2 separate regions of the Homo sapiens genome follow, and region 1 is linked to region 2. The links come from fine-mapping of genetic effects on gene expression. A gene starts in region 2. The other region holds a variant in brackets. All regions are shown on one strand. Distances are between the middles of the regions. Region 1 overlaps CMSS1 (cms1 ribosomal small subunit homolog). Region 2 holds the start of CMSS1 (cms1 ribosomal small subunit homolog).

Region 1 (4,399 bases), 140 kb before region 2:
ACCTACCTCATAGAGTTAATGTGGACATTCTATTTCTTACTGTAACAGGACCAGGCCTACAGTGCTATATGTGTTTGTTGCTGTTGTTGTTGTTATTATTAATTATAATCCTGTGTATAAAAGCCACCAAAGTTTCTCACAGTCATAAGAATGTTAAAACAATATTATCTCTTCCTCTTCTTTCTCCAAACATATTGTTGCTGGAGAAATGGTCATGCTACTGAAAGAGCTATATCTGTCTAACCCTAATGACTGAATATATCCTTTCTCTAACAACAAAAGATAATATACAAAATATTCCAAAACCTAAATGACCTCATGCAGAACCTTTTATGTTGCCCATAGTAATTATGTTCCCAAGAGAACAATAAATATCCTTCCTGATGAGGACTGCCCATCATCTTCCACTCTCCCATCACATGCGACCTCATCTTCCCACTGTTAGCCCTGGTTTCTGCCCTAGCATTTCTGCATCTGTTTTCCCCACTCCTCACCTCCCACTTAGTGCCTCAACCACAATGAACCACCCTCACTTCCCTGAACTCACCACGCATCCCCTCACCTTCAGCCTTTCCAGCAAGCCAGTCCTTCCTGGAATACCTTCCTCTCCTCATTCATCTCGCTTCCTTGGGTAACTCATAGTACTCTTCAGGACTTTGCTTGTGTGGTGTGTCCTGCAGAAAAATTTCCCCGACATCCCTAACCCCCAATCAGCAAGGCTAAATTTGGGGCCCCTATAATAGCCCTTGCCACTCTGCTATTAATAGATCAGAAGTTCCTGAAGGGCAGGAATCACAGACTACTTGGTCCCTCAGTGCTTCCCTAGTTTCTAGCTGTGTCTAATGCATACCCGGTTTGTGCTCTACAAATGTACAAACGAACTATGACATAAGAAAATAGGTTGGCAGACCTAAAGATGTTTGACATCTAGAAAGGGGGAAAGGCAAGATCGGTGTCATTATCTTTAAATATCTACAAATGTCTTGGAAGGAGAAGAATATTCTTAAAAAATTTTTTTTAGACTAAATCACTTATAAAAGAATATTCTAAGTAGCTTCAAAAAGAGGCACCAGGGCCAAAGGTATCGGTTCCCAGGAGCCTTTCCAGCTCCCCAAAATAATATGGCAAAGAATGTCCTAAAATGTAAAACATGGGATACTTTGACCAGTATTCAGCTGCACGTCACTGGATGGGTTCACACATGGGCTGGCAAAATGAACTACATAATGCCTGTCTCCTTGCAAAGTTAAGATTCTGATGAATTAAATTATACTTCTGGGCTCCTGGGTATGCATATATAGCATAAGAGTCATTGTAGATACATAAAGGGATGATCAAAGGTTACATTTTAAGGTATATATATAAGCTTGCCACCCCATGGAGTATTGGGGTTAAAAAAATACTCAGAGGATTTCAAACAAAACAAAACAAAATAATCCAACCCACAAACCCAGCATTCCAACACAGGGGATAACACCTGCAAGAGGCAAGTCCGGATCCCCTCGGGCATTCTCCGCACCACCTCCCTCATCCTGGAAGAGGCAATTTAACTTTACAACTTTCAAGAAACTTCCTATTAGAAGTGGTTTCCAACTTTAGATTTATTGCATTTTCCAAGGTTACGTCATTTGGGCTGTGCATAATCCAGAGGGACTCAAGGGGCACACTGTAAACTGTGACAATAAATATTAACGAATATGTTCCTGATAAAACCTGCGATCTGCACACACGCATGCACACACCCACACAAAAAGGGACTTTTCACCTTATATGGTTACTTTTAAAAATAGACTCTTTTTACATTTCACTTTGTTGGTCTGCCAAACACACAGAGTACATTTACTTTAGAAACACCAATTAAAAATATTAACAACGCAAAAATATATAACCAGAGCTTTAGAGCCAAGGGCACATAAATTAACAGTATTCAATTCAGACAGTAAGTAAACATAAAATCAATAACAGAAAATACTACTTCATACAAAGGAAAGCAAGAACAATAGCCCTGAAAGTGAAAGTGTTCCTCCCCTCAATCCCAGTACCAGGACTCTGGACTCCCCTACTTCTCCCCTACCTTGAGATGTCAATCTAATGATTAGGAAG[C/T]AGGTAAAAAGACTGTAGGAGGGAGGGATAGAAGAAGATGCTAAAGAATGATTTGGGCAAGACCTACAGGAGGTGAGGAGGGAGATTATTTCACTTCACGCTGTAATCTTTTATATTCCTAATCAGAATGTTGCTTCTACTAGTGTTCAAAATCTTTGATTTTTCCCCTGTGGGTAGGGACAAACACTTGGGCTGCCTAATTGAGGAGCAGCTGTGGTAAAGAGGGCTGGGCTGGGAGTTACAGTGTTTGATCTGACATCCAGGTTCTGCCACTTAACTTTTTGGAGCCCTCGTTTTCCTCATCTGTAAAATGGGGATCCTAAAACCTACCTCATAGTGTTGTTGAGAGGAATAACAAAAACTAGGTGTGTAAAGGTGGCTACTCTAACTAGAAAAACACACAGAAACTGCCGTTTCCAAGATGTCAAACATCTTGGAGAGAAAAGAACTACTTCTCTCCGGTACTTGGCAGGTTGTGAGCTACCACTAATTTTTCAATGTTAAACTTAACCCAGGTCGGGATGGAGCCAATCGTTATAACATTGAGAGGCATAATGCTATACACACTTTAGACAATTTATAAATGAAGGAGGGAGGCAGGAAAGGAGGAAAGGTGAAAGGAACAGCTAGGCCTAACTCCCATCTTTTTTTCTGCAAGTGACAGATGTTAGCCATCTGAATGCATTGAATGCATCTCCTTTGTACAATGGGAGTGGTCTGAGTTTTAGTCCTACTACACTGAGTGGGCTGGGGGGCTCAGTCAAGAACCATGCTCATAATCTTACTGTTGGGTAATTCTAAAAAAATTACATTAGTACAATCCCTTCCTTTAATTGTTTTCTATACAATTATCCCATGTCCTCTGGGAGCTAATGTGATAATCCAGTGGAGACTCATTATTGCTCTATTTATTGGAGTCTGTTAGAAAATAAGCATCTTTATTACAACTAATTTTGTTCCATCTCTAAAAGGCTATAGCATTTTGGTCTACAGATTACTAAATTCAATTTATCAGACTGCTAAAGAAATTATACACGTGGAAAACTAAGGCTCAGAAAATTGATACAACCCATGTAATGAATTAGAGCTACACACAAATTAAATGACTTAATTCCTCTTCTTTTTAATATTTATATAGAAAATAAAATATTTAAAGTTTGAGGAAAATGGCCAGGCCCGGTGGCTCACGCCTGTAATCCCAGCACTTTGGGAGTCTGAGTCAGGCAGATCACAAGAGGACAGGAGTTCGAGACCAGCCTGGCCAGCATGGCGAAACCCCGCCTCTGCTAAAAATACAAAAATTAGCTGGGCACAGTGCTGCACATCTGTAATCCCAACTACTCAGGAGGCTGAGGCATGAGAATCACTTGTAACCTGGGAGTTGGAGGTTGCAGTGAGCTGAAGTTGTGCCACTATACTCTAACCTGGGCAAGAGAGTGAGACTCTGCCTCAAAAAATAAAATAAAAATAAAGTTTGGGAAAAATGGAAACTACTTGAACATTTACACAATGAATTTTTTTTAAATTACCATCATATCCTGATGTGTTTTCAAATTCTGTTACATTTATAACCTATTTCAATAATTTATCGGATTAAAAAAATGAAGGAACAAATAGTTACCAAGGCATGATAATTTGCTGTTTTTACACACAAGAATCCAGTGGTATAGAGCTCATTATTTCCATTTTAGAGACAAGAAAACTTGCTTAGAGACAACTAATAGCTTCCCACTGCCTAAGTGTAAAGCCAAAATTCTTTAAGATGCCAAACTAGTACAGCTATCTCCAGTTCATTTTGACATCTCCTCTGGTCCCTTCTCTGCCTGTTCCACTACATCACCAGCCTCTCCAAAACCTCAAGCTCTAGCCCCATGATCCACACTGCTGTTCCCTGAAGGAGCCCTGCTGGCTCATGCCTCTATGCCTCACACTGCCTGCTCTGCCCCCAGCTCTCTTCTTCTCCTGCAAGAGTACCAAGATTCAAACCAAGCTTCACTGGAAGTGTATTCTGAAATGTTGTCTAATTCTACTAACCGTAGACCCATGTGACCATTTCCCCGTGGAATTCCTCCTACCCTTCTGTGGCACATACATGTTATAATTCTTGTTGGCTCTCAAATGTCTCCTTTCTTTGCATGGTCCTTGAAAGGTGGGCCTGAGTGCTATGTAAGCACTTTCCTGCTGGGCTCAGTCACACACTGCCCACTGTAGCAGCTTTTTCATGGCTGGCATTAACAGGCCCTAGTTCTCTCTCTTCATGGCTCTGCTCAAGCCGTGGCAGTTAAAAATAGACCCT
Region 2 (4,399 bases):
CCTGGCCAACATGGTGAAACCCCGTCTCTACTAAAAATACAAAAATTAGCTGGGTGTGGTGGCGGGCACCTGTAATCCCAGTTACTTGGGAGGCTGAGGCAGGAGAATCGCTTGAACCCAGGAGGCAGAGGTTGCAGTGAGCCGAGATCGTGCCACTGCACTCCAGCCTGGGCGACAGAGGGAGACTCCGTGTCAAAAAAAAAAAAAAAGAAAAAAAAAACTGTTGGTTGGTAAAACCCTAAAAAAGATGATCTTTAAGGGCTCTTTACAGATTATGATACAAAGGCCCAGAGAAGTCACAAAGTAGTAGCGGGAAAAGCGTGACTTTCAAAATCAATCACACTTGACTAAACTCTTCCCAGACCTCTTCTTCAATGTGTGTTCCTAAGAACACGACTTAACTTTTTTCTGTTTCTTCACCTATACAAATGAAGAGAATACTTACCTTTTCGGGATGTTATGAAAGTTAAATCAATTCATATTTATGAAGACATTTGTCACATAATAGATACTCAATACATGTTGACTGCCTTTCTTCCAACGGATGAATAACTTGAAAGTCACACAGCTAGTGAGGACTAGAACCAAGAATTGGGATCCCCTTCACCACTCAAACAGAATTCAACTATTTCTTAAATGGCCTCTGTTCATCTTCAATCATATCATAAAATAGAGCTTTTTAACACCTGAGTTGGGAGGGGTAGTTATTAAAGTAAATGTGGAACACCACAGGGCTGCAAAAGAGTCAGGAAGTTTAATCAAGGAAATGTTGTATTGGCTACCTTTCTAAAAATGACATCTGCTTAGTTTGTACCTGAAGGCTTGACCTTCCGGAAACAATGCAACAAATGAAGTTGGTTATTTTTAATGGATATTTCACAACTAGTATTTCAAGATTGTTTGCAGCAAATAGGTATCAAGTGTCTAACATGTGCAGGGCCCTGTGGATGACAGAAGTATGAATCTGACTTTGGCCCTGTCTTCTCTTGTAGAGAAAAGAGGCAGACCTTGAGGAGTGATAAAAACCAACCAACCAATAATTGCATGGTAGGTGTGATGGAACTTAAAAAGTTCAAGGCTAGCCTGACATGGGGGGTCACTTAACGCTACTCTACTTGGGGATGAAATGCCCACTGCATCAGGAGTTGGTAAACACAGCAGAGCATAGTAGAAACTATTCAAATTGTGTTAACTGAATTCTAGTATTGTTTCTGAAAGGAGCTAGCTTTGTGAACTTGTCAAGTTACTTGACATCTTTAGGTTATGTTTCTCATCTGTAAAATAAGTGAGTTCAAAGGATGATCTCTATTTAAGCCTCCTTCCAGTTCTACTATTCCAAATTCCATGATAATGATGATGACCACAAGAAATACAGTAACTTATATTTACCACACATTATATGTCAAGCACTATGCTAAAGTGCATTACTGTACTAACTTCACTTAATCTTCACAACTTTACGAAATGGACATTATTGTTATCATTATTTTACAGATGAGGAAAAGGAGGCTAAACAGTATCAGAATACTGGAGTCGTGATTTGAATGGAGGGAGTCTGAAGCAGCAACCCCTGCTTCTGACCTCAGTCTGAATTGAAAGCAGTTCATGGGTCACCCTTAACCATCATACAAAGTTGCCTCTCTTCACAAAAACTGTCTTATCCATTCTCAAGAAATAAGGAAAAGAGAAAGCTTGTGGAAAGGATCCTTCCTGGCTGGCAGACAGATCTGAGTTAATGTCACAGCTGTCTGTTTCACGTGTTAAAGAATCTCTTGCACCATTTTCCCCGAGATGCTTGCGCGCTCCCAAGGCGGTGCACACCCCTGCTGGGCAAACACCGCGATCGCCAGAAGCGACCAGGGCTGAGGCGCACGGAAGGGCTCCGGGAGAGGCCCCGTAGGAGCGCGGGCACAGAGTGGGTACCTGGGCTGCTGCCTGCTCCAGTCGGCTGGTTCTCCCACCACTCGTCTCCGAGATCGTCTGCCATTTCAGCTCAGGTCTCGACGTGGGCAGAACATCACGGGTAGGCGACCAGCTGCGGAGAATCACGTTGTCTCAAAGCCAGGCGGCCGGCGTAGCTACACGCGGAGCTCCCGCTAGACACTGTCGCCTCCGCCCCGCGGCGATGACGTCACACCTCTGCCCCGCCTCTCCGGCAGCCGCTCCCAGACTCGTCGCAGTTTCCACACAGGCGCCGACAGGCAGAAGCAGTTTGGAAACGCAACATAAATCCCCCCAAAGCTTAAAGACAAAAAGGAACATAAGACGAAAGGGATTGTCATCGTTTTTGATAATGCATTTTAAAAAATTTTGTTTACGTGTTACGTTTCCCGATAAGATTGTGTCGAAAGTGTGAGACACCATGTGAAGACGATTTTTCTCCGCTCAGTTTCAAAGAACTTGCGCAGCGGGAGAAGACCCAAACATGTGCGTGTGTTTTCGCTTGTGCGTCAGTGTTTCAGAGTTTATGTGTTTGTACAGTTTGCTCTTAGAAAACATGCGCAAGGATCCATGACCATGAATGTCGGGCCTTTGTGGTAAATGTAGTTCTGCTATTTATGCAATATGAGTAAAGAAAATGTAATTGGCCTGGAAAGGCTCGCCCACAGAAAGACGCAAGTGGCTCGAAGACCCGCAAGTTGTTTTCCTCATACTCCCTCGGTTGTGTGTCCCACCCCCTATTTGGGAAACGAAGTAATAAGGGAGTCCATTGCTTCGTAACTATAGGTAAGAGACCCGCAGTGCCTCTTGTCTCAGTCCCAACGTGATTTGGCAGGGAGGGACTAGGAAAACCCGCTGGGCGCCAAGTGCTGGGGCTAGCTGTGAAGTAATTGTGGACGGTATTTTTCAGGACATCAAACACAGACGTAAAAATTATACAAAATGTAGTAAAAGCACGCAACGTGCCTGGTACTATGCATGGAATAGTAAGATGAGTCCATTCAGATGTTAGCCTACAGTAGTGGAAATTCAATTTGTAGGAATAAAGGGCTAGACTTCTAATAGGATACATCCTCGGAAATGACAAGACAGGGAAACTTAATCTGATGAGGCTAGGATTAGCCATATGTGGAAAATTACCCCGTGTGCACCCAACTCATAGATGTTTTATAAATGCATTACTGCCTAGACTTTGTCCGCACACTCTAAATGCCCCAAAAGGGAAGATATTATGTATAAATATGGCAAATGTAAAATAATCTATAAAGATCAAAAGTAATATGGCTTTTGTGAAGAAATGTAGATGACGAGATTTTCGTGATTAATAGATTTTTGAAAAAGATAAGAAATGCCAGTGTGGAAGAGGAGTTGCTATGGCTAATAAACATGAAAAGAATTCAGTCTGATTATTAATCTGGGAAATACAAAAAAAACACCACAGCGAGACCGTTTTTCAGGCAATAAATCACAAAATTAAGAAGTATGGGCCGGGCGCGGTGGCTCAAGCCTGTAATCCCAACGCTTTGGGAGGCCGAGGTGGGTGAATCACCTGAGGTCAAGAATTCCAGACCAGCCTGGCCAAAATGGCGAAACCCATCTCTACTAAAAATACAAAAATTAGCCGGGCATGGTGGCAGGCGCCTGTAATTCCAGCTACTTGAGAGTCTGAGGTAGGCGAATTGCTTAAACCCGGGAAGTGGAGGTTGCGGTGAGCCGAGATGGTGCCATTACACTCCAGCCTGGTTGACAAAAGCGAAACTCGGTCTCAAAAAAAAAAAAAAAAAAAAAAAAAAGAAGTCTGGCAATACTAAATTATGGAGTGTCTATGCATTAATGGGAATTGATACCTGTTTTGTACCATGAACTATGAATGGTCTTACATTATATTCCACCTCGCCTCAGCCTCCCGAGTAGCTGGGACTACAGGCACATGCCACCATTCTTGGTTATTTTGTTGTTGTTTTTGTTTTTTGTAGATATGGCGTCTCATTTTGCTGCCCAGGCTGGTCTTTAACACCTGGCTTCAAGCAGTCCTCCCACTCCAGCCTGCCAAAGTGTTGGTATTAGAGGCCTAAGCCACTGTGTCCAGCCATTTTTTACATTTTTAAAGCATTGTAAGAAACAGAACAAAACAACAACGACAACAACAAAAACGTAAAGAAAAATATGCAGCAGAGACTGTAGCCCTCATATATTTACTATTTATTACTATTCCCTCATATATTTGCTCTAACTTTACAGAAAAAAGTTTACTGACCCCAGATTATATTGAATAGCCAACCTAAGTTGTAGCATCCATTTCTGTTCTGTTTGTTCTGTTATTAGTGAATTGGTTATTAGTGAATAGGCATCCTGGTTTATAAATCAGTGTATTGTAAAACCGTACTCTCCAGTATCTGATCATATCATCTAACACAGGGAAGCTCAGGCTGAAATAACTATTAGGTCTTTTTCTGCT

The links. PIP is the estimated chance that this variant, and not a neighbour inherited with it, causes the effect.
Region 1: its variant is the best candidate, but not a certain one, in a credible set for the expression of CMSS1 in T cells (TOPMed, PIP 0.51).

The regions. Positions count from the first base shown.
Region 1 is chr3:99,958,322-99,962,720 of GRCh38, reverse strand. All of the region lies in intron 1 of CMSS1 (cms1 ribosomal small subunit homolog), which reads right to left. The region is part of intron 1 of FILIP1L (filamin A interacting protein 1 like); the gene reads left to right. All of the region lies in intron 1 of LOC105374010 (a long non-coding RNA gene), which reads right to left. Among named protein-coding and RNA genes, the nearest start is that of MIR3921, 3.9 kb to the left of the region's middle. The variant C/T (reference allele first, on the strand shown) is at 2,104.
Region 2 is chr3:99,815,568-99,819,966 of GRCh38, reverse strand. It overlaps CMSS1 (cms1 ribosomal small subunit homolog), which reads right to left and starts at 2,105. Exons shown (of 10, transcript NM_032359.4): 1 at 1,924-2,105. The coding sequence starts at 1,987. HP09053 (a long non-coding RNA gene) reads left to right here. Exons shown (of 3, transcript NR_110821.1): 2 at 993-1,047; 3 at 1,495-3,335. It overlaps LOC105374010 (a long non-coding RNA gene), which reads right to left and starts at 2,105. Exons shown (of 5, transcript NR_189163.1): 1 at 1,924-2,105. RefSeq lists enhancers at 1,839-2,148, 1,380-2,254 and a silencer at 1,670-2,424.